Homo sapiens: one gene and its partners. The protein of the gene in region 4 interacts with the protein of the main gene of each other region in a biochemical or structural test. Each region holds a gene or a part of one and is shown on either strand. Other genes may lie near its edges. The genes, in order: ATG7, RNF187, RWDD2B and TRIM7.

Region 1 (7,534 bases), on a different chromosome or scaffold from region 4:
GGCAGGCTCAGGCACGAGAATCACTTGAACCCAGGAGATGGAGGTTGCAGTAAGCCGAGATCGCGCTACTGCACTCCAGCCTGGGTGACAGAGTGAGACTCTGTCTCTCTCTCTCTCTCTCTCTCTCTCTCTCACACACACACACACACACACACACACACACACAAAAGAAAAAAAAAAGAAAAGAAAAGGGGTCCTGATCCAGACCCCAAGAGAGACTTCTTGGACCTCACACAAGAAAGAATTCTGGGACAGTCCATAAAGAGAAAGAAGGTTTATTAAGAAAGCAAAGGAGGCTGGGTGTGGTGGCTCACGCCTGGAACCCCAGCACTTTGGGAGGCCGAGGCGGGCGGGCCACCAGATGTCAGGAGTTCAAGATCAGCCTGGCCAACATAGTGAAACCCTGTCTCTACTAAAATATAAAAAAGTAACTGGGCTTGGTGGCTTGTGCCTGTAGTCCCAGCTACTCGGGAGGCTGAGGCAGGGGAATCGCTTGAACCCAAGAGGCGGAGGTTGCAGTGAGCCGAGATCACGCCACTGCACTCCAGCCCAGTGACAGAGCAAGACTCTGTCTTGGAAAAAAAAAAAAAAAAGAAAGAAACCCCATTTGTATTAAAAAAAAAATACAAAAATTAGCCAGGCATGGTGGTGTGTTCTTGTAATCCCAGCTTCTAGGGAGGCTGAGGCAGGAGAATTGCTCACCATATTCTAGGAAGGCTGAGGCAGGAGAATTGCTTGAAACCAGGAGGCAGAGGTTGCAGTGAGCAGAGATGCGCCATTGCATTCCAGCCTGGGCAACAGAGTGAGACTCCATCTCAAAAAAAAAAAAAAAGAAAAAAGAAAAAAAGGGAGTAAAAGAATGGCTACTCCATAGGCAGTGTGTGGTGGCATGGGCTGCTCAATTGATTATGCTAATAGTTACTTCTTGATTATATGCTAAACAAGGGGTGGATTATTCATGAGTTTTCTGGGAAAGGGGTGGGCAATTCCTGGGACTGAGGGTTCCTCCCCTTTTCAGACTGCATAAGGCAACTTTCTGACATTGCCTTGGCATCTGTAAAAGGTCATGGCAATGGTGGGAGTGTCTTTTAGCATGCTAATGCATTATAATTAGCGTATAATAAGCAATGAGGATGACCAGAGGTCACTCTCGTCACCATTTTGGTTTTGGTGGGTTTTGGCACGTTTCTTTAGCACAACCTTTATCAGCAAGGTCTTTGTGACCTCTGTCATACCCTGATCTCCAGTTTTATCCTGTGAGTAAGAATGCCCAACCTCCTGGGAATGCAGCCCAATAGGTCTCAGCCTTACTTTACTCAGCCCCTATTCAAGATGGAGTCATTCTGGTTCAAATGCCTCTGACAGTAAAGGTTAAGAAATCCTTCTTGGCCAGGTGCAGTGGCTCACGCCTGTAATCGCAGCGCTTTGGGAAGCCGAGGTGAGCAGATCACCTGAGGTCAGGAGTTTGAGATCAGGCGGGCTAACATGGTAAAACTCCGTTTCTACTAAAAATACAAAAAATTAGCCGGGTGTGGTGGCATGCACCTGTAATCCCAGCTACTTGGGAGGCTGAGGCAGAAGAATCGCTTGAACCCGGGCGGTGGAGGTTGCAGTGAGCCAAGATTGCGCCATTGCACTCCAGCTTGGGCAACAAGAGTGAAACTCCATCTCAAAAAAATAAATAAATAAAAAAAAAAGGCTGGGCGTGGTGGCTCACACCTGTAATCTCAGCACTTTGGGAGGCTGAGGCGGGTGGATCATGAGGTCAGGAGATCGAGTCCATCCTGGCTAACATGGTGAAACCCTGTCTCTACTAAAAATACAAAAAATTAGCCGGGCGAGGTGGTGGGCGCCTATAGTCCCAGCTACTTGGGAGGCTGAGGCAGGAGAATGTCATGGACCTGGGAGGCGGAGCTTGCAGTGAGCCAAGATTGTGCCACTGCACTCCAGCCTGGGTGACAGAGCGAGACTCCGTCTCAAAAAAAAAAAAAAAAAGGAAAAAGAAATCCTTGCTGGGCAAGGTGGCTCACACTTGTATTCCCAGCACTTTGTGAGGTGAAGGTGGGAGGATCACTTGAGTCCAGTAGTTCAAGACCAGCCCTGGCAACATAGCAAGACCCAGTCTCTACAAAAAATGAGAAAATTAGCCCGGCATGATGGCATGCACCTGTAGTCCCAGCTACTCAGGAGGCTGAGGTGGGAGGATCCCTGGAGCTCAGGAGGTTGAGTCTGCAGTGAGCTATGATCACTCCACTGTACTCTATCCTGGGTAACAGAGGGAGACCCCGTCTCAAAAAAAAAAAAAAAAAAAGATAAAGCAAAAAAGAGAAATCTTTCTTAACCTTTTTGTGCTTCAGAAAATGTTCACTACAAAGAAATACCCATTCTCATGTCACTTAAATGACTCCTGGTTGCCTCCCTTGTTTACTGTGGCAAGGTCAAACACAGTCCTTCTGAATTCCCATTCTTTGCCTCATAAATGATTACAGAGCTGCTTGTCTCCATTGACCAGTTGGAAAAAATGCTTATTAACCAAACTTGGGTTAAGCTTCTTTCCTTTCCCCAGGCTCCTTACTTTAACCTACTCTCAGCTTGAACTAGCATACTGTCTCATGTGTCCGTGTGAAGAGACTACCAAACAGGCTTTGTGTGAGCAACAAGGCTGTTTATTTCACCTGGGTGCAGGTGGGCTGAGTCCAAAAAGAGAGTCAGCAAAGGGTGGTGGGATTATCATTGGTTCTTATAGGTTTTGGGATAGGCGGTGGAGTTAAAAGCAATGTTTTGGGGGTAGGGGGTGGATCTCACAAAGTACATTCTCAAGGGTGGTGAGAATTACAAAGAAACTTCTTAAGGGTGGGGGAGACTATAAAAGAACCTTCTTAAGGGTGGGGGAGATTACAAAGTACATTGATCAGTTAGGGTGGGGCAGAAACAAATCACAATGGTGGAATGTCATCAGTTAAGGCTATTTTCACTTCTGCGGATCTTCAGTTGCTGCAAGCCATCTGGATGTATACGTGCAGGTCACTGGGGATATGATGGCTTAGCTTGGGCTCAGAGACTGACACACACAACCCCTACTGAGAATAGGTTGGCCTCAAGATAAAACATTCTCTAATCTACTATCTGATCAAGCCACCCCTTCATCCCACTTCCCATATTCGGTTGTTTCCAGCCTTGTTTACCTGCCTTTGGGGAGGGTGGGGGGTGGGGGAACCCTCTTTTTCCCTAACCATTGAAACATCTGCGGATGTTTTGGTCAGAGTGATCTCACTATTGCAATAGTCTCCCTCTGCTATTGCACGGTTCCTTCTCTCCCACCTCTCTCACTTCTTGCAGTAATCCTTTCTTTTTTTTTTTTTTTGAGACGGAGTCTCGCTCTGTCGCCCAGGCTGGAGTGCAGTGGTGGGATCTCGGCTCACTGCAAGCTCCGCCTCCCGGGTTCACGCCATTCTCCTGCCTCAGCCTCCCAAGTAGCTGGGACTACAGGCGCCCGCCACCACGCCCGGCTAATTTTTTTGTATTTTTAGTAGAGACGGGGTTTCACCGTTTTAGCCGGGATGGTCTCGATCTCCTGACCTCGTGATCCGCCCGCCTCGGCCTCCCAAAGTGCTGTGATTACAGGCGTGAGCCACCGCGCCGGGCCTGCAGTAATCCTTTCTAATAAGTATCCTTATTAGTCTGGATTTGTTTTCTTATTTGCCAGAATCAAACAAACTTCAGATTACGTTCCTGGCCCAAAAGCCCTTTAACTTTCAGCAAGCCACCTAACTTTTCTTAGATTCTGTTCTTTCATATATAACTTGGGGATATGTTTCAGGACTCTTGTGAGGATTAGAGATGTAAAACCCTGAAAACATGGTGGCTAGTTAATTAATAGCAGTCATCGCTCTTGTTGTTATGAGTCTAGAGTGGTATATCAGAGTTAATTTGTGAAAGGCCTTACAGGCCAGACAGAGAAACTTGTCATAATCACTGCTGTATCTTCAACACCTGTCCAGTGCTTTGCACGCGCAGAGTATCTAACCAAGTATTGAGAGGGAATAACTTTATCTCACTGACAGTGAGGAGCTGTGAGAATGATGGCTGGTTTAGAAAAGGCAGGTTGGTCACTGTCGACGTTCACTGGCCTTTTCCTACTAAAATTCTCATCTCCTGGCTCTCCACACCTGCCACCCTGATGGCCCCTGTGCTGCGTTTGATGCCGCCTCTCCTGGAGAATGACCATGGTGATCATTCCTGTCATCCTCTGAAATCAAAAGAGAGAACGTGGGCACTTTCTTAAAAGCCTGAAGGGAATGTAGACATTCCGACATCTGGTAAGGGAGACGCTCTCCATCGCTTCCCCCGGGGGCGTCACCGCCCCCTGATGCCCCGCCCTCCTCACGACTCAAGTTCCTCCCACTTAGCTCGGTGCTAGGGGCGCATTTCCCCGGCATGCCTCTGCTCCTTTGCGCACGCGCGCCGCTTCCCAGTGGCAAGCGCGGGCAGGACCGCGTTGCGTCATCGGGGCGCGCGCCTCAGAGAGAGCTGTGGTTGCCGGAAGTTGAGCGGCGGTAAGTGAGCCGCGGCGGGCGAGGGTGTAGTGGGGTCTTGCTGGGCCGGTTTTGGAGGCCTGGAGTCAAGGGGCGAGCTCGCCAGGGAGGGCGAGGGTCACAGCAAGTCTCAGGATCCTCCTCTGCCAGTTTCTGGGTGGTCCTTCCTCCTCCAGGGACTCACTGATTCCGGCTGGCGCCCTTCGTCTGTAGCCGCGTCCCCTCAGACTGGTTCAGTCCGGGGTCTTCTGACTTGGAAGCTCGTGCTGATTTCCTAAGTCAGCCCCTCCTGTCCTCTTGGTAGGCAGTGCTCAGAATCTTCAGTGTTGGAACACGGGAGATGGGACATTTGGATTCCCAGCCTGGCTGTGTCTGGATTTGCTGTCTCTGGCACGTTCCTTCCCCATCTAAGCTGCTTTTCCATCTGCAAAATGGGAATGATAATCCGCCATTTGTTTAAGTGAGGAGGTTAAATAAGTTTACTTTCTGAGAAAGAAGATTCTCGATTCCTTGGTTACAGGGTTAGAAACTAATGCACAATAAGAATCAATCCGGTAAGGTAAATATAGGTGTTAGAACATTTGTCAGAAATAGAGTCAAACTTCTAATTTTATAAGTACAGTACTAACGTACATGATGTTGGAGAAGTACAAGCCAAACCGTGTGTGTGTGCACGTGCGTGCAGTTTCCTGATTTTTAAACACTGGCGACTGATGCCATTTTTTAAAAATTGGCAAGTAATTCTGGCGTTTAAAAACATTGGCAACTCAGTTTTTACAAAACCCTGTTCAACTGTAACCAGTCATATCTGTGGCTGTCAGTTTGGGACCTCTGGATCCCAGACTCCCTTTTTCATTGACTACTTAGATTTTTTTCTCTGACACCTCTGCCCACTGGCCAGATTTCTTCAGTGACAGAAAGCTTTCTACTTCTGGTTGCTCCTGTTTGGTCCTCCCCCAGTTCTGACTCTTAGGTTGAGCTGAAAGCAGCTACTCGGTAATCTTAGCTCACTGTTCCTCCTTCAGGCTCTTGGAATCACCCCTGCATTTAATTGCCCTATACATCATTGAAAGCTGCTAGTTTGTCTTCCTCTTCTCACCTTTTCTTCTCTAGGCTAAGCATATTTAATGTATTTGCTCATAGTAAACTTAACAGTGACAGCAAATTTTGTCATGTTTTGTTATATCCCCAGCATATAGAGCAATGCCTAGCATATTATATATGCTCAATAAATATTTGTTGGATGAATGAATAAAACAAATATTTGCCTGTTATGTGCCTGGCATTATTGTGGGCACTGGTGATCTATCAGTAAAATAAGAAGAAAAAGAACCCTGTTTCATGGCACCTTCTAATAATAGTGGTGGTGGTGGCGGTGGCGGCATTGTCAGTAAGGGTTGGTAGGTGTTTCCGATTCTGAAACGTACAGGGTCATGGGATGGACAGTAATTGGGGGGAAGCATAAAAGCTAGCTAGTCAGGGATGGCTTCCCTGAGGAAGTGACCTAACACTTGAATAAAGAAAAGTCCAGTCTTGGAATGGCTCATGTTGCTAAACTGCTTTCCCATCCCCCAACGCTGCTCCAGTCTTGTTAAGCTGCTTGCAGGTGTGTGTCACCTATAGCCCTTTGCTTCTGCTGCTTCGAACATCTCCCCTTCCTCTTCCATTTATCTTGGCCAACTCCTTCCTGCCCTCATGTGACATGATTTTGAAATCCTTTAAGAGCTGAGTACTGGACTTTCCATTACTCAACCACAGGTTCCGTTTTTCGTTCCCAGCCAGCATCTCATTATAGAGAATAAACATTTATTGAGCTTCAGCTGTGTGTCTGGCACTGCGCTGCAAGCTGGGAATACAAAAATGAGTAAGATACACATCCCTGTCCTCAAAGAGTTTACTTTTTTTTTAAGCCAAGGAGATAGCAACGGTATGGCATGAAGCTATTGCGGAGGTTTGGTAGAGGAGGACTTAGGGTACGCATAAGTCAGGCTGACTCATCAGAGAAGGTTTCAGTGAGGAGGTGCTGCTTTAGCCAAGACCTGAAGGACGAACGAGATCTGACAGGTGAAGAGTGGTTCGAAGTGAGATGAGCAAAGGGCTAGAGGTGAGAATGCATGGCCTGCTTGTGGTTCACTGGAGTGCCAGTGTGGAGGTGTAGGATGAGAGGTGACTGGAAAGGTAAGCACTAGCCACATCGTGAAGGGCCCTGTGGACAATAGCATGTTACCCGCACATAGACTTTGGGATCCAAGATAGCTGCGTACCAATATTCCCATTGCCACTGAACTAGTTTTGTGACCCTGGGCAAGTCACTTCTTTCTAAGCTTCAGTTTCCTCATCTCTAAGAAGGGGAAATAAAAACTGTACGAGGTGATATGTTACTCACTTGACACTGGTAGATGATAAATACTCAATAAACAGTAGTCATTAATATTGCCAGGCCCAGAAGTTTGGACTCTAAAATGTGGGGGCGGGGGTGGAGAGCAGGACACTGAAGATTTTAAAACAGATGCGACATCCTCTCATCTGTTTTAAATTACCCAGGCAGCAATGTGGTGATTACACTGGACAGAAAAAGACAAGCAGGGGACCAGTTGGGTATAGTTGCAGTGATCCAGGTGACAGGATGAAGATCTGGATGAAGGCAGTGACAGTGGAGATGGAGAGGAGTGGGAGGAGTTGAGAGATTAAGGAGGTGGAATTTGCTGGACTTGGTAACTGATAGGATGAAACAGAAGAAGGGGACAAGAATCAGGATCCTGATGACGGGAGGGCAGAAATGAATTTGCTGTGTGGAATTGAGCAGTAACAAAATTCTTTGACTAGTGTCTCTAATAGATTAACCCTGACCTCTGATTTTATTTGGAATTCAGTTTGCCTCTGTCGTCCACTTCTACCCATGGAAATGACGTTCGCTAATGTCTTCCTCTCCTCTTTTTTTTTTTTTCTTTTTTTTTGAGATGGAGTCTCACTCTGTCGCCCAGGCTGGAGTGCAGTGG
Region 2 (6,857 bases), on a different chromosome or scaffold from region 4:
TGGCCAGGATGGTCTCCATCTCCTGGCCTTGTGATCTGCCAGCCTCGGCCTCCCAAAGTGCTGGGATTACAGGCGTGAGCCACCGCGACCAGCCTTTTGCAATTTTTCATCAAAATTTGAGAGGACCAAGGGTTCCCCTTGGCACCTACACCAGCCACCCTGTCTTGGGAAGTGGGGATGCTGGCACCACACAATGTGGATTCTGCTGGTGGTAAGGGAGAGAGGCTTTCAGGCAACAATCTTTGCCAGTGTATACTTCCAAAAGTCTCTAATGCACACATGTGCAAGTTCATGGCTGCTACCATTTGCTAAGCCATGCCCCTAGTATTGGACCTTCAAGGTTTTTTTTTTTTTCTCCAAAATGAATAGTGATATGACATACATTTCTCTTTCTTTCTTCTCTTTCTTCCTCTCCCTTCCTCCCTCCCTCCCTTCCTTTCTCTCTTTCTTTCCTTCCTTCTTTTTCTCCTTCCTTCCTTCCTTTTCTTTCTTTCCTTCCTTTCTTCTTTTTCTTTTCCCTTTCTTCCTTCCTTCCTCTCTCCCTCCACTCCTTCCTTCTCTCCCCCACCCCCCGCCCCCACCTCTCTCTCTCTCTCTCTCTCTCTTTCTTTTTTTTAAGACAAGGTCTTAAAAAATTCTCTCATTTCCCAGGCTGGAGTGCAGTGGCATGATCACGGCTCACTACAGGCTCAATCTCCTGTGCTCGGGTGATCCTCCCACCTCAGCCTCCCAAGTAGTTGGGTCCACAGGTGCGTGCCACCACGCCCAGCTAAATTTTAAAAATTTTCTGTACAGACAGGTTCTTGCCATGTTCCCCAGGCTGGTGTTGAACTACTGGGCTCAAGCTATCCACTCACCTCAGCCTCCCAAAGTGCTGGGATTAACAGGCATGAGCCACCTCTCCCAGCCACATTTCTAAACAAAACAAAACAGCCCAATTTTTTACAACCCAATTTTTATTATTTTCATTTCCTGTTATTTTTATAGTTTGTTTTCTAAGAAAAGGAATTCCAATCAGAAAATCCTTAATCGATACTGCTACGTGGATTACAAGAAGCAGTATTCACAGAATCAAGTGTTTTTTTTGTTTGTTTGTTTTCTGTTTTTTGTTTTTTTGAAATGGAGTTTCACTCTGTTGCCCAGGCTGGAGTGCAGTGGTGTGATCTCGGCTCACTGCAACCTCCACCGCCCAGGTTCAAGCGATTCTCCTGCCTCAGCCACCCAAATAGCTGGGATTACAGGCACGTGCCACCATGCCTGGCTAATTTTTGTATTTTTTTTTTTTTTTTGAAACTGAGGGAGTCTTGCTCTGTCGCCAGGTTGGAGTGTAGTGGCATGATCTCGGCTCACTGCAACCTTCGTCTCCCGGTTCCAGCTATTCTCCTGCCTCAGCCTCTCAAGTAGCTGGGACCACAGGCGTGCACCACCATGCCCAACTAATTTTTGTATTTTTAGTAGAGACGGGGTTTCACCATGTTGGCCAGGATGGTCTCGATCTCTTGATCTTGTGATCCACCTGCCTCAGCCTCCCAAAGTGCTGGGATTACAGGCGTGTGCCACCACATCCAGCCTAATTTTTGTATTTTTAGTAGAGATAGGGTTTCACTATGTTGGCCAGGCTGGTCTTGAACTCCTGACCTCAGATGATTCACCCGCCTCGGCCTCCCAAAGTGCTGTGTTTACAGGCCTGAGCCACGGCTCCCGGCCAAGTTTCCTTTTTTTTGTTTGGTCTGCTTACTTAATAGTGGAAAGAAAGAGAGTCTCGTTTTATTTTCCTCTTTCTTAACTGGGCAGAGTGTACATTTTTTTCTCATGTGTGTTCAATCATTTGTGTGCTTTTTTTTTTGTGATTTGAAAAATCCCATGACAAGGTGTATTTTCCATCATGCTTTTCCTTACCTAATTTTATAAACTCTTTGTATATTTGTGGTTACAATGTTCCTAATTTGGCTATTTGCCTTTAATTATAATTTTTGATATTTTCTCATTCACAAGATTAGTTCATTATGAAGTTTGCTCATTTTTTATATTTTTTACTTTTCTCTCCAGCAAGTTCCTAGTTGACTCAACAATATCAGCAAGGCTCGGCTGGAAGCCTCTAATCTTTACTACACAGAAATAACCTCGGTTTACTATTCATGTTTCCCACGGGCATCTAGTGCATTTCCAAGTCGATTTAAAAAATCTTCACAAAGACAAAAATACCTCATTAGATCCTGCGCTTGCTTGGAATACAGATTTATAAAAATTTTTTTTTGTTTTTGTTTTTTAAGACAGAGTCTCGCTCTGTCGCCAGGCTAGAGTGCAGTGGCACGATCTTGGCTCACCGCAACCTCCGACTCCCTGGTTCAAGTGATTCTCCTGCCTCAGCCTCCTGAGTAGCTGGGATTACAGGCATGCGCCACCACGCCCGGCTAATTTGTGTATTTTTAGTAGAGACGGGGTTTCACCATGAGCCAGGATGGTCTCATATCTTGACCTTGTGATCCGCTCGCCTCGGCCTCGCAAAGTGCTGGGATTAGAGACGTGAGCCACGGCGCCCGGCCCAGATTAATTTTTTAAAATGCAAAACTTGCACAATCTTATTTTAACCATGCTTGCTTGTTTTCAAAATAATTAAAAAACAAAAACACAAGATTGCTCTTCCCAAAGGCTTATTTCTTTCCTTTAAATTTATTTTTTAAAGAAAAGCTAACGGCCGGGTGTAGTGGCTCACGCCTGTAATCCCAGCACTTTGGGAGGCAGAGGCGGGTGGATTACGAGGTCAGGAGTTCGAGGCCAGCCTGGCCAACATGGTGAAACCCCGTCTGTACTAAAAATACAAAAATTAGCCGGGCGTCGTGGCAGGCGCCTGCAATACCGGCTACTCGGGGGGCTGAGGCAGGAGAATCGCTTGAACCCGGGACGCGGAGGTTGCAGTGAGCCGAGATCGCGCCACTGCACTCAAGCCTGCCTGGCAACAGAGCGAGGCTGTCTCAAAAAAGAAAGAAAAGCAAAGCAAAGCTAACAAATGCTCTTCTGTCATGCATCATCACAGAATCAATGAGAGCTCCCCCCAGCCAGGAGACAGCGGACAACCAGGGTAGCTTCCCAGGGGGCCAGAGGGAGGCTGCGCGAGAAGAGGCTCAGCGGGATGGGTCCACGCAGGGAGATCCCACGCAGGGTGGGCGTATACGAGTGTCCACGTCCGGAGGGCCGTTCAAGGGCGGGTCCCTGAAGGAAGGGTGCACGCAGGGCACGTCCACGCGGGCAGGCCCGTGCACGCAGGGCGTGCCCATGCAGGGCGGGTCCGTGCAGGATGAGAGCAGCGGAGGAGGCCCACGCAGGCCATTTCCCGCCCCGTCCCCAGCCCACGCGGGCGAGCTACCGCGGGGGTACGCGCAGCTCAGATCCTAGCAGCTTACAAAAACAACCTTTTAAAAATGGAACCTTCAAGTAAAAATAAAACTTTGTTTCCCTCTTTCGCAGGAGTTACTGAAGTAGGAAGGGACAGCCCAGTAAGATTTCAGGATACGACTTGGGCCGGTCCGCAGGCAGTAGAGTGAAGCGCGCAGCTGCCAGGACTTGCGCGGTGACGTGCGCCGCTGCCAGGACCTTGCAGGTGGAGAGCATAGTTGCCAAAATCAAGGCGGAGGAGCGCACCGCCGCTAGGATCCAGGCGGAGAAGCCCACCGCGGCCAGGACCTAAGGATGCAGTACACTGCTGCCAGGATCTTGTCTGTGGAGCGCAGCGCGGCCAGGACCTCCGGCTGCAGCACACCGCTGCCAGGATCTTATCGGCAGAGCGCTCCGCGGTCCGGACCCCGCCCCGTGCGCGTCCCCGACCCCGCCCCGTGCGCGTCCCCGGCGTTGGCGTCTTCGTCCTGTTGCTGGTCTCCGTCCGGTCGCCGGCCGTCTAGGTCTCCGGCCCTCCCCAGCCGCTCCTGCGCCCTTGCCGGCCCCGCCGCCCGCAGCCCTGGCGCTCCCTGCGGGCCCCGCCGAGGCCGCCTGCGCCCTGTGCCAGCGCGCGCCCCGGGAACCGGTGCGCGCCGACTGCGGCCACCGCTTCTGTCGGGCGTGCGTGGTGCGCTTCTGGGCCGAGGAGGACGGGCCCTTCCCGTGCCCCGAGTGCGCCGACGACTGCTGGCAGCGCGCCGTGGAGCCCGGCAGGCCCCCGCTCAGCCGCCGCCTTCTGGCGCTCGAGGAGGCGGCCGCGGCGCCCGCGCGCGACGGCCCGGCCAGCGAGGCCGCGCTGCAGCTGCTGTGCCGCGCCGACGCCGGCCCGCTCTGCGCCGCCTGCCGTATGGCTGCGGGCCCCGAGCCGCCCGAGTGGGAACCGCGCTGGAGGAAGGCGCTGCGCGGCAAGGTGCGCGCCGCGGGGTCCCGTGCCCCACCCCGGACGGTGCCCTGCGCCTCTCCGCCCCCGCCCCGGTCCCCCTGAGCCCTGGGCCCTTCCCGTCTCCACTGTTCCTGTCCCCGGATTGTCCCCGTCCCCGGATTGTCCCCCTCCCCTCACCGCCACGGGTCCCCTCTCCAGCGTGTGCTGGGCCCCTCCCTCCTGCGGCTTGCCTCCCCATATTTCCTGCGTCTCTTCGGAGTCTGGTCCCCTTCCCCGTCTTGGTGTCCCCTGCTGGGCGGTGCCTTATCTCCCCACCCCCTACCTTCTACGAAGTCCTTCCCCCACCAGCGCCCATCTTTGTGGTCCCATCACTAGCTGTGCCCTGTCTCGCCCTCATAGACCCCCTCTAGTTCCTACAGATTGACTCCTCCACTCACTCTTCCCTTGGGGGAGACATCACGCCTCTTGCCCCTCTGTATTCCACTGTGTCCACAGGCCTGGCCCACCTTCTCGTCTGCTCCCCGGGCCACCCAGCCCTCGCCTGCACCCCCTGTCCCCTCTCCCATCTTTCAGAAACCCGCTCTGAGAGTCTGGCAGCAGCGGGTCCGGGAGTCTGGAGCCTTGCCCATGGCGGGTTGGTTGTGGGACACAGAATAGGAGACAACAGCCAGCCTGGGGTCCTGCTCTTCAATACAGGGGAGGGGAAGCCAGCCAGACTGTGTCCCTGGGTGCTCCTCCTGCATTGGGGGTCCTGCCACCGGGCAGAGCGACCCCCATCCGGCTCAGGCAGGGCAGGGTGTAGGGCAGGCTGTGCAGACCTTTGGTACAGGCCGAACTCACACTGAACAGGGCCACTTACAGACACAGAACTCCTAAACCCACCTAGACAGTCCCCTTAGCCCCAGCACCCAGATCCTTCTGAATAGGTGTGAAGCCCAAGAAACCTTTTGACTGCCTGTGCGTTCCTGCCCTAGACAACCGGGCTTCGAGGTTATCTCTGGGATGGTCAGACTGTGTGCAGTCAGCTGGGGTGATGTCCCTCAGTACTGGGCTGGGTTGGGGGACCCAGAGCTTCTGCCCACCCCTGGTGACCTTCTTTTCTTTACAGGAGAACAAGGGGTCTGTGGAAATCATGAGAAAGGACTTGAATGACGCCCGGGACCTGCATGGCCAGGCAGAGTCAGCAGCTGCAGTGTGGAAGGCAAGTGGGGGGACCTGGGGCAGCCTGGAATGAGGGGACTGTGGGCTCAGGGCTCTAGACAAAGGGACCACCAGGCCAAGTGGGCCAGGCCTCTGAACTGCTCAGCTGGTTGGTTGGAGGAGGGGCCTCTGGACTTAAGTGAGCTTCAGGGTATTTTTTTTAGGATGTGTTTGTATTTCTCAAATAGAATCTAGCCAAAGCCAGTGGAAGCCTCTTTTTCTCCTCACATTTTACCTGTAGGTGATGGCAGCATCAGACTTCTTTTTTTTTTCCCAAGAGACAGAGTCTCACTTCATTACCCAGGCTGAAGTGCAATGGCATGATTGTAGCTCACTGCAGCTCGAACTGGCCTCAGGCGATCCTCCCACCTCAGCCTCTGGGACTATAGGCACGTGCTACCACACCTGGTTAATTTTAAAATGCTTTTCTAGAGGTGGGGGTCTTGCTGTGTTGCCCAGGCTGGTCTCAAACTCCTGACCTTAAGCGGTTCTCCCGCCTTGGCCTCCCAAAGTGCTATTTTTTTTTTCTTTTTTAGAACACATCTGTAATTTTCTGTGGTCCTCTTGTTCTGATCTGAGAGTTGCTCATTATTTTTTAGAGGCTAGAAGTCCAAGATGAAGGAACTGGCAGATTCCCTGTCTGGTGAGGGCGTTTCCTGGTTCATAGATGGTGTCTTCTCACTGTGTCCTCACATGGTGGAAGAAGTGAGGGTGTCTCTGGGGCCTTTGTGTAAGGACACTGATTCCGTTCTTGAGAGTTCCACCCTCACAACCTCATCACCTCCCAAGGGTCCTGCCTCCTAACGCCATCACCTGAGGGATGAGGATTTCAGCATGGGGATTTGGGGAGGACACAGACATTCAGACCAGAGCAGCGTTACTTTCCTTGGGTGCCTTCCACAGTATTATATCCCAAGGGGACATCCCATAGATTCTTTTAGGTTACTCACCAGTAAAGCTCTTTAGTCGTTTAAACTCTATTTGGTGACTTTTTCCTCGTGTAGTAAAAACCTGTGTGCCATTTTCTCTGCGTTTCATAAATTCCTATCTCCTTCTTTTAACCTGAAAGACAGAGTGCTTTTCACAGGTGCAGCAGCTCTTGGGTAACTGGCTGCATCTCGAGGCTGAGGCCCACGTTTTTACCCCAGCTTGAGGCTGAGGTGGGCTCTGTGCTCCTGGTGCTGCCAAGCCCTTGCCTGCTATCCACAGGCCTGAGGTGCAGGCCTCCCTCAGACAGTGACGGGTTACACATGGGGTCCCTGATGCCACTCAGACCCCTGGCACTCCACACTGCCCTTGGGGCTGCTCTGAACTTCTCCTTGCCTTGTGAGTGGTCAAC
Region 3 (7,762 bases), on a different chromosome or scaffold from region 4:
GGCTCACTGCAATCTCCACCTCCCAGGTTCAAGCGATTCTCCTGCCTCAGCCTCCCAAGTAGCTAGGATTACAGGCATGCGCCACCACACCCAGCTAATTTTTTGTATTTAGTAGAGATGGAGTTACACCATGTCAGTTGGGCTAGTCTCAAACTCCCGACCTCAGGTGATTCACCCGCCTTGGCCTCCCAGAGTGCTGGGATTACAGGCATGAGCCACTGCTCCCGGCCTTTTTTTTTTTAAACAAAATCCTCATACATACTTAAAATCCCTGGACTTATTGGAATTCCATATACATATTTGCTGGTCTGTTTTGGAGTTGAGAAACATAAAAAACAACTACTTGGGTGGTTATTAGAGGAAATGGTTTACTTTGTTTTTTTGTTGGCGTGGCTCTGTTACCAGTGTTTTTGGATTCTATTACCAGATTGCCAAGGTGCGACTCCTGGCTCTGCCACTTACCAACTGCAGGACCTTAGGCAAGTGGCTTAATTTATCTGTGCTTTAGTCTCCCCAACTCCATAACTGGGATGAGAGGGTTGCTGTGATGATTAGATGAGAATTTGTGGAAAGTGCCTGGCAACAGTAAATTTTATATGCGTGCTTGCTACTATTATTATTAATTAAAAAAACCTTTTTTTTTGAGACAGGGTCTAGCTCTGTCACCCAGGCCAGAGTGCAGAGTCGGCTCACTACAACCTCTGCTTTCTGGGTTTTTTAGTAGAGACGGGGTTTCACCACGTTGGCCAGGCTGGTCTCGAACTCCTGCCGTCATGATCCACCCGCCCTGGGCTCCCAAAGTGCTGGGATTACAGGCATGAGCCACCGTGTCCGGCTGCTTATTACTATTATTATTATTGGTCATCATTTCAACAAATGTTTCTCAAGCACTTACGTTCAAGCACTGGCACTAAGATAACAATGAATGAAAGTAATAAAACAACTCTACTGGTGGGAGGATACCATGACATCAAAAACAAATTTATACGCCCAGCCCAGGTGCGGTGGTGGCTCACGCCTGTAATCCCAGCACTTTGGGAGGATGAGGTGGGCGGATCACCTAAGGTCAGGAGTTTGAGACCAGCCTGGCCAACATGATGAAACCCCATCTCTACTAAAAATACAAAAATTAGCCAGGTGTGGTCGCCCACGCCTGTAGTCCCAGCTACTAGGGAGGCTGAGGCAGGAGAATCGCTTGAACTGGGGAGGCGGAGGTTGCAGTGAGCTAAGATCATACCTCTGCACTCCAGCCAGAGCAACAGAGCAAGACTGTCTCAAAAAAAAACAAAAAAGAATTTTTGTACCCAGTGAATAACTGCTATGAAGAAACCTGAAAAAGAAAACAAGGATAAGGGAAACAATGAGGCAGCAGGGGTGAGACTGCACACAGCATTGTCAGGAAAGGCCTTTCTCCTAAGGTGACTGTAGGGAAGAGACTTTAAGGAACTGAAAAAGGAGGCCATGTGTTTTTCTTGGCCAAGAGTGTTCAAGGGAAAGCGAACAGCATATTCAAAGGCCTTGAGGAAGGAGGGTGCTAGAACAGCTGGCCAGAGCACAGTGAGCTGAGGACACGGGGAATAGAAGAGTTTAGTAAGGAAATGTGGGGCAGTTTATGTTGGGACTAGTAAAGCATGGCCAGAATTTTGAATTTTATCCCGACTGACATGTAAGAGCTACAAGAGAGGTTTGACTTATGAAGATCCCCACACTTGCTGCTATGGAGAAAAGTGAAAGGAAAAGTGGGGTGACCAGATATAGACACCGCAATAACTAGGGAGAGATGATGGTGGCTTTGATAGGATTATAGTGGTCAAGTTGGTGAGCTTCAGGTTCTGGATACATGCAGAGAACAGAGGCAACAGGATTTACAGATGAATTACATGAGACACGGAAGAATGACTCCGGGGCTTTAAGGTACTGAAAGTATGGATCTGCCATTTATTTAGACGTTGATGGTCATGGGGAGCTGAAGCTTGGTTTTAGACACAAGTAATGAAGTGCCTACTAAGACACCTGTTAAATAGAGAGGTCTAGCAGGCAGTTAGATGTATAGTTTTGAAGTCTACGAGAGACTCAGCTAGATATATAATCTTGGGAGTCAACACTTATTTGGAACTATATATTTGTTTAAAGTCTCCCAGGGAGTGAGTAAAGTTGGGAGAGGGTGCTATTGAATTGGAGGTATCGAAGATGAAATGGGATTAGCAAAGAAGAACGGGACGGAGGGACTCTTGAACGGACAACTACGGGAGTGATGTCACAGGTCATTTATCTGCCAAATTATTTTCGCTTAAGAGATTTCAGTCCTTCCAAAAAACCCTCAAGATAATTTTATGATTCAAGATTTCAGCGAATGCTGTAAGATAATAGACTGTGGCCGGGCGCGATTGCTCACGCCTGTAATCCCAGCACTTTGGGAGGCAGAGGAAGGGGGACTGCTTGAGCCCAGGAGTTCAAGATCAGCCTGGGTAACATAGTAAGAGCTCGCCTTTATTATTTTTTTAAAAAATAAAATATATTTAAGAGAACGCAGACTGAAACTTGAGATTTCTGAGTGGAATAATATCTTTTCCTTGCAGATTTTTTTTTGAAGAACAGAGCAGGGTACCCCGCGACCCAAGCCAAGACGCTCTCAGGAAGAAAGCCCAGCACGCAGCCGCCCTCGCACCCTGATTGCCCCCGGGGCGAGGTCCCCGGCTGGAGCAGGGCTGCAGAAGCCGGGAAGCAACGCCGAGGACCGAGCCGACCGATGGGCGCATGCAGTGAGGGGAACCGGGGCCGCCATGCCGGGCACGTTCCCAAAGGGTTGCACTGGGCGCTGCAGCGTGGGAAACCCCCGTGGCGGTCACCACTGGCGCTAGCTGAGGCGAGACTCACCTTGAGCCGTGGCCCCCTCACTGCTGTAACCCGGGTTCCATGGCTGCATGGACAGCTCAATTTTCATCAGAAGGGAGCCTCAAAATTCTAGCATACTGCGACCCAAAACTTACAAACCGCCTCAGCTGGCGACCTACCGGAAAAAAAAAAAAAAAGCATGCGGCGCATGCGCGTCCAAGGCCGCGGACCGGAAGCTGGGGCTCGCCTGTTGGGAGCCGCGTCCGCCGGTGTTGGTGTCTGCACTTGGAAGGACGTAGGGAATGCGTTGTCCCTGCTAGGTACTTTTCAGTCGCAGAGTTCTCTTCTTCTTCTTTCTTTCTTCCTTTTTTTTTTTTTTGAGACGGAGTCTCGCTGTGTCTCTCAAGCTGGAGTGCAGTGGCGCGATCTCGGCTCACTGCAGCCTCCGCCTCCTGGGTTCAAGCGATTCTCCTGCCTCAGCCTCCCGAGTAGCTGGGATTACAGGCGCCCACCACCATGCCCAGATAATTTTTGTATTTTTCAGTAGAAATGGGGTTTCACCATGTTGGCCAGGCTGGTCTCGAACTCCTGACCTCAGGTGATCCACCGGCCTCGGCCTCCCACAGTGCTGGGATTACAGGCCTGAGCCACCGTGCCCGGCCGGAGTTTTTCTACTTAATACCTCTCCATGCCAACCCCGTTGTCATTTCCCAGCGGCCGCCTCTATAACGGGCACTTTTCAGGGACAAAGAATTGGTCCGTTAATGTTCCTCAAATTCGAACGCGCCTAGGAATAGTTCGGGGATCCTGTTGAAGTGCAGATCAGGATTCCGTAGGTAGGGGTGGGGTTCCAAATTCTACATTTCTAGTATCTTCCCACACGATGGTGATCCTCCTTGTCCCTGAATCATGGAGGAGGGCAATTAGGGAGATGTGAGCCTGGATGCATGGTGGCCTTGGCTATCTTAGGTGTTCTTGCCCATTAACCAAGCTGGGAGGAACCGTGTGAATGCATATCTATCCCTGTTAATAAAAGGGTAGTTTGAAGGAGATGCTGACAGGAGAATAATTAGAAATGTTTTTCTTCCCAATCCAACTATATGCAATACACTTTATAATATTCATTTTAGAAATGTCATAGATAAGATTTGTAAACATTGACATTTAGCAATACTAAATATCACTGCTAGGTCTCCCCTCCACTTTTTTTTTTTAAACAAAAATACGACAGTATGTATTGTAGGTCTTCATAAACTACGTCTTCTGCATAGTGTTTCATGAGCGTTTTTCAATGTCATAATTTATTTTTTCCTCCAACATTTATTATGAAAAAATTCAAGTGTAAAGCGAAGTCGAGAGAATTTTACAGTGGAGCAGACCTCAAGAGAAGGGGAAGGATGGATTTCCCCTCTATTTAGCAGTGTCTGAAGACATTTTGGGTTGTCACAACTGGAAGGATGGTATTGGCATGGGGTAGGTAGAGCACAGGGATGTTCCTCAACTTCCTACAATGAACAGGACATCCCCCGACAACAACAAATTTGCTGGTCCAAAATGTTGATAGTGTTGAGGTTGAAAAACACTGACCTGGAGAGTACAGAATTTTACTCTACCAGCTTTGTCACATACCTCATCAATCTATCTGTTTTCATACATTTAAAAGTAAACTGCAGACAGTACGCTTCTAAGTACCTCTAATGCACATCATTGGAGTTCAAATTAAGGATTTTTTAAGGTAAAAATGAAATGCATACCTTAAATACACATCAGTTTTTAAATGCACACGCCTATGGAACTCAAGCCATATTAACATATAGAACGTTACCATCACCCTAGAAAGTTCTTTCATGCCCTTTCTTAGTTCCCAACCAGTTCTCCCCAAAGGTAACCACTGTTCTGATTTTTTCCCCCACCATACTTATTTTTCTTGTTATAGAACGTCATATGGTTGGAGTCATGCAATAGATATTTTTGTGTAAGGGTTCTTTCACTCAGGGTAATATTTTCATCTGATATCATGTGTATCACTTTCTTTTGATTGCTCAGTAGTATTCCATCATATGAATATACCAGTTCCATTCTTGTTTTGATAGAAACCTGGGCTGTCTTCAGTTTTTTGGCTATTATAAATAAAGCTGCTGTGAACGTTCTTATATAGCATTTTATTGCTCATGACTTTCTTTTCAATAAATATTTATCGAGCACTTACTATATTCCAGGCATTTCCAGGTACTAATTATAGCCATGAACAAGACAAAGATGTCGCATCTCTCAAAGAGCTTATATTTGCACATTTCTGTGTATGTATGAAGAGGGCTAAACATAAAGGTAAAAATAAAAGAAAATTATGGGCCGGGCACAGTGGCTCATGCCTGTAATCCCAGCACTTTGGGAGGCCAAGGCGGGCAGATTACCTGAGGTTGGGAATTCAAAACCAGCCTGACCAACATGAAGAAACCCCGTCTCTACTAAAAATACAAAAATTAGCTGGACATGGTGGTGCATGCCTGTAATCCTAGCTACTGGGGAGGCTGAGGCAGGAGAATTGCTTGAACCTGGGAGGCGGAGGTTGTGGTGAGCCGAGATCACGCCATTGCACTCCAGTCTGGGCAACAAGAGCAAAACTGCGTCTCAAAAAAAAGAAAAAAAAAAAAAATTATGGCTGGGTATGATAGCTCATGCCTATAATCCCAGCACTTTGGGAGACCAAGGAGGATCACTTGAGCCCAGGGTTTGAGACCAGCTTGGGCAACAGAGACCCCTAACTCTACAAAAAACACAAAAATTAGCCAGGTGTGGGGGCGTGTGCCTGTAGGCCTGTAGTCCCAGCTACTCAGGAGGCTGAGGTAGGAGAATTGCCTGAGCCTGGGAAGTTGAGGCTGCAGTGAGCTGTAACTGCACCACTGCACTCCAGCCTGGGCAACAGAGTGAGACTCTGTCTCAAAAAAAAAAAAAAAAGAAAGAAAATTACCAGATAGTGGATAAACTGCTGGGCAGAGAAGTAAAGTAAGGTGATGTGAGTGATCAGATGACTGTGTTACTTAGATTGCCCTGTAACTGGAAGGAAGTGACTTTTAAGGCATGTATAGAAGCTGGGTGTGGTGACTCACACCTGGAATCCTAGTGCTTTGGGAGGCTGAGGCTGGAGTATCGCTTGAGGTCAGGAGTTTGAGACCAGCCTGGGCAGCAGGCTTTTGTAGAGACACGGTGACTTCAAAAAAAAAAAAAAAAAGTTAGCTGATGAGGTGGCACACACTTGCAGTACCAGCTACGCGAGGCTGAGGCATGAGGATCACTTGAGCACAGGAATTCAAGGTTACAGTGAACTATGACTGCACTTCAGCCTGGGCTACAAAGCCAGACCCTGTCTCTAAAATAAATAAATTAAAAATAAGGTGTGAACAGAATGACAATAAGATACCAACCCCGGAAGATCAGGGGGAAGAGGCTTTCTGACAGGAAGCACGTGGTACAATGACCCTAAGGCTCTGTTTTAAAATGCGTGGGGGCAAAAAGCCTGCATTTCTGGAGCTTGGAGAAGAAAGCTTTAAAAAATTATCTCATCCCACTCCTGTTCTTTTTTGCATGAGAGCTGGAGCCTATGCCCTACCACACATCCGTGGATATGCCCAGGATTTGACTTGGGCCTTCGAACTTTGCACAGTAGCTGCTACTAACTTTTTGAGATAATACATTCGTGGGGGCTCAGTCCTGCCTCATCTAAATCACCAGAGACCAAACAAGGACCAGCCCAATATCTCTTGGACTGTAATGTCATAATGTTGTCAGAATACAGAGAAAGATGAAACTAAGCCGGGTCCGGTGGCTTATGCCTGTAATCCAGCATTTTGGGAGGCCGAGGCAGGTGGATCACTTGAGGCCAGGAGTTCAAGACCAGCCTGGCCAATATGCTGAAACCCTGCCTCTACCAAAAAAATACAAAAGTTAGCTGTGTGGTGGGGTGGCACGTGCCTATAATCCCAGCCACTGGGGAGGGTGAGGTGGGAGAATCGGGAGGTGGAGGTTGCAGTGAGCTGAGGTCGTGCCACTGCACTCCAGCCTGGGTAACAGAGTGCAACCCGGTCTCAATAAATAAATAAATAAGTAAATAAAACAAAAATTATCTCAGCAGTAAAAAGCAAGAGAGCTAGTTTTCCCCCAAATTTAACCAAATGTTACTCTGGTGGTTAGTATGCCACCATCTTAAACTCCTTTTATCTGATTAGTAAGGATGGACATTTATTTTATGACCAATTGTTCTTTTATGGTGAATTACCTGTTTACATATCTATTTTTCTATAGCTATCTGCAACTCCCCCGACCCCCACGGTAGCGATTACTATCTTCTCTACTAAACTAAGACTCCAGGGCAGAGAGGCCTATGTTTAATTCATTTGAGGAAAGGCTTGGCACAAAGTGTGCACTTACATATTTTCTTTTTTTCTTTTTGAGAGGGAGTTTTGCTCTTGTTGCCCAGGCTGGAGTGCAATGGAGTGATCTTGGCTCATTGCAACCTCTGCCTCCAGACTTCAAGCGATTCTCCCCCTTAGCCTCCCGAATAGCTGGGATTACAGGCGCCCGCCACCACGACCGACTAATTTTTTGTATTTTTAGTAGAGACGGGATTTCACCACGTTGGCCAGGCTGGTCTCGAACTCCTGACCTCACGTGATCCACCCGCCTCGGCCTCCCAGTGTTGGGATTACAGGGGTGAGCCACCGCGCCAGGGCTCGCACTTACAAATTTTCAAAGAATGGACAGTAAATATTTGAAAATCCCCTCCTCCCCCGCAATTTATCTGACACCGTCTTTCGGTTTTGCTTTAAAAATTCACTCTCGCGGCCGGGCGCGGTGGCTCACGCCTGTAATCCCAGCACGTTGGGAGGCCGAGGCGGGCGCATCACAAGGTCAGGAGTTGGAGACCAGC
Region 4 (7,953 bases):
TTTTGAGATGGAGTTTCACTCTCGTTGCCCAGGCTGGAGTGCAGTGGCATGATCTTGGCTGACCGCAACCTCTACCTCCCGGGTTCAAGTGATTCTCCTGCCTCAGCCTCCCGAGTAGCTGGGATTACAGGCATGTGCCACCACGGCAGGCTAATTTTGTATTTTAAGTAGAGATGGGGTTGCTCCATGTTGGTCAGGCTGGTCTGGAATTCCCAACCTCAGGTGATCCGCCCACCTCGACCTCCCAAAGTGCTGGGATTACGGGCGTAAGCCACCGCACCCAGCCAATCCTTTTATTCTTTCAACACCTATTTACTGAGCTAGGAACTGAATTTGCAAGGTAGAAAATGACCGATGGTGATTCATGTTTGCTTATCTTTTTTTTTTTTTTTAAGGTGGAGTCTCGCTCTGTCTCCCAGGCTGGAGTGCAGTGGCGCGATCTCGGCTCACTGCAAGCTCTGCCTCCCGGGTTCACACCATTCTCCTGCCTCAGCCTCCGGAGTAGCTGGGACTACAGGCGCCCGCCACCACGCCCGGCTATTTTGTATTTTTAGTAGAGACAGGGGTTTCACCGTGTTTGCCAGGACGGTCTTGATCTCCTGACCTCGTGATCCGCCCACCTCGGCCTCCCAAAGTGCTGGGATTACAGGCGTGAGCCACCCTGCCAGGCCTCATGTTTGCTTATCTTAACCAAAATGAGCCCTCGTTTCACTTTCCTGTTCTACCCTAAGGAAGATAAAATATCATTCCAACTTGGGGTAGAGGCAGGTGCCAGTACCCAAGACCCTGGGCTGTGCAGCAGGGGCTACTGTAAACCCAAGACCCTAAACTTCCTCCCTCTGCCAGAGCCAGGGAGCAGCTCTGACGCCCTCTAGCCCCTTCTCCGTTAGCCTCGATTTCAAATAAAAACACTGTGAACATGAAATTTTTTTCACTACTGTTTTGTTGACAAAACATGCCATGAGGCTCTTTATTGTATTAATATTCCCACTTATTGAATATCCATGTTTCTCTGCAGAAATAGTAATGTGTTCCATTACAAGATGCTTCCGCAGGCCCTAACTGGTATGTTACGTAATATCAGAGTGACTGAGCGTCCTGATTCGCTGGGACAGCTCCAGTTTAAGCCAGTTGTTTTGCAATAATTATTTTAGCACTGCTTTTCACTTTAAAAAGCTCTGGTTTGTACAACAATTATGTGGACACCCTATATAATATGGACTCTATTATCTTTCTGAAATCGATTCTGCGGTTCCATAGCACACACTCCAACACCACACACACCGAGCCCTGGTGCTGAGTTCTCAGGCCTCTGTAATGTCCCACGGGGGGCCTGCGGGTGCCTGGCTCACCAGCAGCTCCTTGCTCTCCTTCTTTTCCGTGGACCGGAACACCTCACAGTCCTCCAGTTCCTTCTTCAAGACCCTCAGCCTGGACTCCAAGAGCTCCTGTAGATGAAGGGAAACAATGTAAGGTGGGGGTGAGGGGCTTCTGGAAACCCCCACCTCTGCCTTCCTGGAGCCAGCCAGGAGAAAGGGAAGGCCCTGCTCACTGAGGGGGAGGCCGGGTAGAAGTCATCTCTACAGGCTACAGGTTACACTGCGAGGTGACTCTGAAGGTCTCGGGATCTTGCTTCCCCAAAAGCATCTGCTGGACCAGCCAGACTGAAACACAAGCTCCGGCAGCCCTACCCCTAGTCGTCTCCTCTACTCTCCGCCCCCCCACCAGGAAGCCCCGTGGCTGGGAGAGTTGGAGCAGGATGGGCCAGCAAGGAGAGACTGGGGACTGCCGCCCGAGCCTCCCCGCCCCGCCCTCACCCCTGCACACACCCTCGCTGAGGCTCAGCGAGAAAATAGCAAAGAAAGGGCCCCCAGAATCGACAGCGTTGGCACAGTCAGACGGCTCTAGGTGCGCGGCTTAACCCGGGAGCCCCCTCCCTGGACATCTTGGCGAGGTCCTCTCACTCAGTTCCACGAGGTGGGGACTTTGAGCAGAGCCCGCTTCGGGGAAAGAGATAAGAGTGGGGGCAGCGGCTGCGTGGCTGTGCCGGAGACTTCCCGCGGGCAGAGAGCTGCGGAGACGCAGACCAGGCTAGAGGCTCCGAACAGACAGGAAGAACATCGCCAAGTCCGTGGGGGACGTCGCGCAGGCGGCCCAGTATCTGGCCCAGAGGGAAACGCAGTGGGGGTGGGGTGGGGGTATTGGTGATGTTGGGGGTGACAGAGAACCGCGCTCAGCCCGGGAACCAGCGCTGGGCTTCCTGGAATGGAGAAAGAAGGGAGGGGCTCACCCGGGCCTCCTGATCGACAGGCTGTTCTCTGCACCCCGTGCGCGGGAGCGCGGGACCAAGTCAGGGGGTCCCGGGGACCCACGGGGTGGGTGGGGGCTGCGCTCACCTTGGCCTCCTGCACCGCCTCGTCCAGCGGCAGCACGGCGTGCTCGCGGTGCTCGCGGGCGCGGTCGCACACCACGCAGATGGCGCGTCCGTCGTCCTGGCAGTAGAGCTTGAAGGGTTCGCCATGCTGCCCGCAGCGGGCAGCCGCTGCCCGGGCCGCGGCCGCCTGAGACCCGTGCTCTCCCGGGGCAGCCGCGGGCAGGCTGAAGCGCCGCAGGAGCGTGGCCACTGCCGCCAGCTGCCGGTTGGGCCGCAGCTGACTGGGGCGCGCGGGCTCGCGGCACTGCGGACAGGGCAGTGGGAAGGGGGGCGCGCGGGTGGCGGCCCCAACAGACCCCGCGCCCGGGCGCTCCCAGCAGCGCCCTATGCAGGCGCGGCAGAAGCTGTGGCCGCACTCGACGGACACCGGCTCACGAAAGAGCTCTAGGCAGATGGAGCACGTCGCCTCGCCCTGCAGCTCTGCCGCCAGCGCTAGAGCCTCGGCGCCGGTTCCGGGGCCGGTCCGCGGTCCCACAGCCGCCATGCGCGCTCTCCGCGCACCCAGATCTGGTCGCGCCTGGGCGGCCACTGGACCTCACAGGACGCGGAGCTGGGCGCCGAGGGCCCACTGGGAGAGGAAGGGCGGGGCTGCCACTGGGCAGGCAGAGACTCGAGCCCGGGGCGCGCCCGGCTGGGAGCCGGGAGGGGAGGCGCACGTTGACTACGGGCCATTCAAGTGCGGGACAGCGCCCTGCGCCCCGGATCTGCGCTCCACCAGCCCCCGCCCTGGCCAGCGGCCTCTCCCCCTCGCCCCCGTCCCTCAGACTCTCCAGGCCGCCCCAGCCTGACCCAGTCAGCCGCGGGAAACGGGCCGCGACAGGTGGGCGCACAAATGCTGCCAGCGCCACTCCCGGTTTCCGACCGAGGCCGACCCAGCATCGCCGGGGCAAGGGCCTGGCGCTCGGGCCACGGTGTCAGGTTCCGCCAGCGCAGGTTCGCCCCGGCCCTGTGCTGAGTTAAATTTAGAGACTGGAACCTGGTCCTGTCCCCTCACGCGCAAGCGTGGCCTTGTATCCATTCCATTACCTTTTCTGCGACTGTCCTCCGGCTTCTTTACTCTTTACTTAGTATTTGAACAGATAACACATTTATAATTTCCCATTGTATTCAGTATTATTCCCCCCCCACCGCACACACACACACACACACACACACACACACAAACCTCAGCGCTCTCTTGTCCCCCAGCTGTCTCCACAGCCCCGCAGCAGAGCTGCCTGTGTTATCCGCTTCCACACCCTCTCTCCTCGCTCACTCTGGAGGCCACTTGGATCAAGCTTTCGCCCGCACCCTCCTCAGAAACCGCCCTTGCCAATGTCACCGGGAACTTCAGCAATTCTCACCCAAAGGCGAAGACCTCGCCTCACCTCATCTGCCCCCGGATGCTCCCTCCTTCCCGACTTCCCTTCTCAGGGCCTTCCAGGACCCAGTGTCCCCGATCTTCTTGCTGTTCCTGAACCCCGTGGCCTCTGCGCTGGCTGTTCCCCTTGCGTGGACCTCTTTTCTCCCACCACCTGCATGCTCCCTCCCACCTCATTCAGGTCTTGTTTCAAACGTCTCTGCCCACGAAGCCCGCCCCGAACGCGCACACTGTGTAAAGTCGTCTCTTAGCGCGCTCCCTTCTCAGGGCCGGCTCTGTGCCCGCACTCTATCTCCTCTGGAATGTCAGCTTTCAGATGGACTGTACTAGGTTTGTTCACGGCTGAATCCTGTTTTTAGAGCAGTTCTTGGCAAGCTCAGTAAGGTTTTCTTGGATTAAACTTGGTTCGAAATTCAAAAGAGGAGCCGCAGTTCACGGTGGAAAGTAGGCCCATCGCCTGTGTCCCAGTCCTTTCTTCCTCCCGAGCAATCAACTTTACAATTCTGGATTACGTTAATCAAATATTCCGTATTTTATTGCCTCAACCCCCACTTTTAAAAAACAAAACGTAGCATCCTGCACAATTTTCCTTTCTTCTCTTTTTCAGGTCACAGTTCATTTTTGGCATCGTGCCTGATGATTGTCTCTCCTTTTTCCACAGCTGCTCCCAGGTGCTTAGCCGGGCCTAATCCTCTCTCTTGGAATCCCTTGGTCAAGACCCGCTGGTTTGGAGTCAGCGGAGGACGCTGGAACAACTCTTGCCCTGCGATGCCGGGTTTTTGCAGCGGCTGAGACCCAGCGCGTACCGGTTGCCTTCCACTCCCGGTGTCCTGAGTTAAGCGACCAATAGGGACCATCTGGGAGAGCTGCTGAGAGTAGGTGGGGATGTAGCTCAGTGGTAGAGCGCATGCTTTGCATGTATGAGGCCCCGGGTTCGATCCCCGGCATCTCCAGTGTAGTTTTGCACATTCAATTATTGTTTTCGATTTTCCTTTCAAATTTTGAAATCCAGCATGTTTGAAGAGCTCCAAGAAAAAACCCAGAGGGTGGAGTCTGCGGAGTAGAAAAAGACCGCGGCGGCCCCTGCCCTCCTCTGGGCCCCATTGTCTTTCCCTCCTGTTTTAAAATCCACACGGTACTTGACCGGGTGAGGTAGCTCACGTCTGTAATCCCAGCACTTTGGGAGGCCGAGGCGGGTGGATCACGAGGTCAGGAGTTTGAGGCCAGCCTGACTAACATGGAGAAGCCCCGTCTCTACTAAAAATACAAAAATTAGCCGGGAGTGGTGGCACACGCCTGTAATCCCAGCTACTCAGGAGGCTGAGGCAGGAGAAGTGCTTGAATCCAGGAGGCAGAGGTTGCAGTGAACCGAGATTGCGCCACGACACTCCAGCCTGGGCGACAGAGCCGCAGTTCGTGGTGAAAGGTAGGCCCATTTTTTGAGAGTCTTCTCTGTCAAAAAAAAAAAAAAAAAAAAAATCCACACGGTGAGAGCTCCAGTGGCGTCAGGGTGCACGTTTCTCCATCTCCGTGCCGTGAGCTTCATCGCGGGTAGAAAATGGCTTGGTCGCTGGTAGGGTAGAAGGGGCAGGAAACGGACGTAAGTGGGAGGGACGGTCAGGCACTGACGGCAGAGTTTGAATTTCCCAGGAGCCGAGGCACTTTAGTAGTTTTATCACACTCCAAATAAATCCAAGTTCAAACCCGCAGTTGAATACACTCCGACTCTGATCTAGAATGAAAAATTGTTGAGATACGGTCATCGGGCGCCCGGCTAGCTCAGTCGGTAGAGCATGAGACTCTTAATCTCAGGGTCGTGGGTTCGAGCCCCACGTTGGGCGGCAACTGGTCGTTTTAGTCCTAAATCTACGACTACTAGCCATACCTAAAAATATATTATAAGTAGACCAGCTCTTAGGAAAATAATCTGCTCTGAAGTCTTGCATTTCTGTGTGTGTAATACTCTTGCGGGCGCTCCACTGTTCATTATCTACCCATTATCTTGCGATACAATTAGGATTTAAAGCTGTGGTAAAATATGCCCAACAAAATTTAACACTTTTTAACTGTACAGTTCTGTAGCATTAAATACATTTAAATGGTTGTGCATCAGTCTCCAGTCCTTTTTCCTGTTTCCCAGATGAAACTCTGAACCCATTCAGCATTAACTCTCCATTCCCCTCTGCCCACAGACGCTGGCAACCACCATTCTACTTTCTGTGTCTTTGAATTTGACTCCTCTAGATACCTCATATAAGATGAATCGTGCAATATTTCCTTTTTAAATTGTCTTATTTCACTTAATGTCTTCAAGATTCATCCTTATATTTCCTTTTTAAATTGTCTTATTTCACTTAATGTCTTCAAGATTCATCCTTATTGTAGCATGTGTCAAAATTTCCTTCCTTTTAAAGCTGATTAGCATTCCATTGCACATATATACCACATTATCCATTCATCTGCCAATGGACACTTGGTTCCTTCCTCCTTTTGGCTACCGTGGATAATGCAGCTATGAACATGAGTGTACAGATATCTGTTTGAGTTTAGGCTTTCTATTTTTTTAGAGTATACATCACAAAGTGAAATTACTAGGTCATACGGCATTTCTGTTTTTGCGGAAGTGTCATACCATTTTCCACAGAGGCTACATCACAAATGAGCTTTAAAAAACATCTTTCGACCTGGCGCGGTGGCTCACGCCTGTAATCCCAGCACTTTGGGAGGCCGAGGCGGGCGGATCACGAGGTCATGAGATCGAGACCATCCTGGCTAACACGGTGAAACCCCGTTTCTACTGAAAAAAAAATACAAAAAATTAGCCGGGGGTGGCGGGCGCCTATAGTCCCAGCTACTCAGGAGGCTGAGGCAGGAGAATGGCGTGAACCCGGGAGGCGGAACTTGCAGTGAGCCAAGATCGCACCACTGCACTCCAGCCTGGGCGACAGAGAGAGACTCCGTCTCAAAAATTAAATTAAATTTAAAAAAAACATCTTTCGGCCGGGCCCAGTGGCTCACGCCTGTAATCTCAGCACTTTGGGAGGCCGAGGCGGGTGGATCGCCTGAGGTCAGGAGTTCGAGATTAGCCTGACCAATATGGTGAAACCCTGTCTCTACTAAAAATACAAACATTAGCCGGGCGTGGTGGCACGCGCCTGTAATCCCGGCTACTCGGGAGGCGGAGGTTGCAGTGAGACGCGATTGCGTCACTGCACTCCAGCCTGGGCGACAGAGCAAGATTCCGTCTAAAAAAAAAAAATTAAAAAATACAAACGGGCCTTGTGGTGGACGCCTATAATCGCAGCTACTCGGGAGTCTGAGGCAGGAGAATCACTTGAACCCAGGAGGCAGAGGTTGTAGTGAGCTGAGATGGCGCCACTGCACTCCAGCCTGGCGGACAGAGCGAGATTCCGTCTCAAAAAAAAAAAAAAGCCGGGCGCGGTGGCTCACGCCTGTAATCCCAGCACTTTGGGAGGCTGAGGCGGGTGGATCACGAGGTCAGGAAATCGAGACCATCCTGGCTAACACAGTGAAACCCCGTCTCTACTAAAAACACACAAAAATATAGCCGGGCGTGGTGGCGGGCGCCTGTAGTCCCAGCTACTCGGGAGGCTGAGGCAGGAGAATGGCGTGAACCCGGGAGGCGGAGCTTGCAGTGAGCAGAGATGGCGCCACTGCACTCCAGCCTGGGAGACAGAGCGAGACTCCGTCTCAACAACAACAAAAAAACCCAAAAACAAAAATCTTTCGGCTGAGCGCGGTGGCTCATGCCTGTAAATCCCAGCACTTTTAGGAGGATTGCTTGAGGCCAAGGGTTCGGGAGCAACCTAGCCAGACCCTCATCTTTAAAATAAAAATTAAAGAACATTAAAATATAAAACAGAATTCAGTGAAAAGTGTTTAACTCCCCCTTAAAATTTCAATTTTATATTTTTGTACATATTCTTCCAGAAATTTTGATGCAAGTAGTTTTTTTTGGGGGGGGGGCTGGGTAAGGAGGGGGAACAGAGTCTCTTGATCTGTCGCCCAGACTGGAGTGCAGTGGCGAGATCTTGACTCACTGCAACCTCCACCTCCCGGGTTGAAGCGATTCTCTGCCTCAGCCTCCCGAGTAGCTGGGACTATAGGTGCCTGCCACCACGCCTGGCTAATTGTATTT

The links.
Region 1: of the proteins of TRIM7 (region 4) and ATG7, one has a biochemical effect on the other in vitro, tested with the Homo sapiens proteins (one study listed by BioGRID).
Region 2: the proteins of TRIM7 (region 4) and RNF187 interact in a test that uses a peptide from one of them, tested with the Homo sapiens proteins (2 studies listed by BioGRID, with this or other methods).
Region 3: the proteins of TRIM7 (region 4) and RWDD2B interact in a test that uses a peptide from one of them, tested with the Homo sapiens proteins (one study listed by BioGRID).

Annotation. Positions count from the first base shown.
Region 1 is NC_000003.12:11,267,875-11,275,408, forward strand, and holds the start of ATG7 (ubiquitin-like modifier-activating enzyme ATG7), read left to right. Parts: upstream 1-4,522; 5' UTR 4,523-4,556; exon of another isoform or gene 4,557-4,835; intron 4,836-6,339; exon of another isoform or gene 6,340-7,534. UniProt on the Homo sapiens protein: E1-like activating enzyme involved in the 2 ubiquitin-like systems required for cytoplasm to vacuole transport (Cvt) and autophagy.
Region 2 is NC_000001.11:228,483,534-228,490,390, forward strand, and holds the start of RNF187 (E3 ubiquitin-protein ligase RNF187), read left to right. Parts: upstream 1-3,848; 5' UTR 3,849-3,955; coding exon 3,956-4,345; intron 4,346-5,426; coding exon 5,427-5,519; intron 5,520-6,857.
Region 3 is NC_000021.9:29,016,334-29,024,095, forward strand, and holds the start of RWDD2B (RWD domain-containing protein 2B), read right to left. Parts: upstream 3,017-7,762; 5' UTR 2,945-3,016; coding exon 2,878-2,944; exon of another isoform or gene 2,580-2,877; intron 1,915-2,579; exon of another isoform or gene 1,253-1,914; intron 1-1,252.
Region 4 is NC_000005.10:181,202,193-181,210,145, forward strand, and holds the start of TRIM7 (E3 ubiquitin-protein ligase TRIM7), read right to left. Parts: upstream 3,005-7,953; 5' UTR 2,919-3,004; coding exon 2,397-2,918; intron 2,149-2,396; exon of another isoform or gene 1,553-2,148; intron 1,449-1,552; coding exon 1,353-1,448; coding exon of another isoform or gene 1,305-1,352; exon of another isoform or gene 396-1,304; intron 1-395. UniProt on the Homo sapiens protein: E3 ubiquitin-protein ligase that have both tumor-promoting and tumor-suppressing activities and functions in several biological processes including innate immunity, regulation of ferroptosis as well as cell proliferation and migration.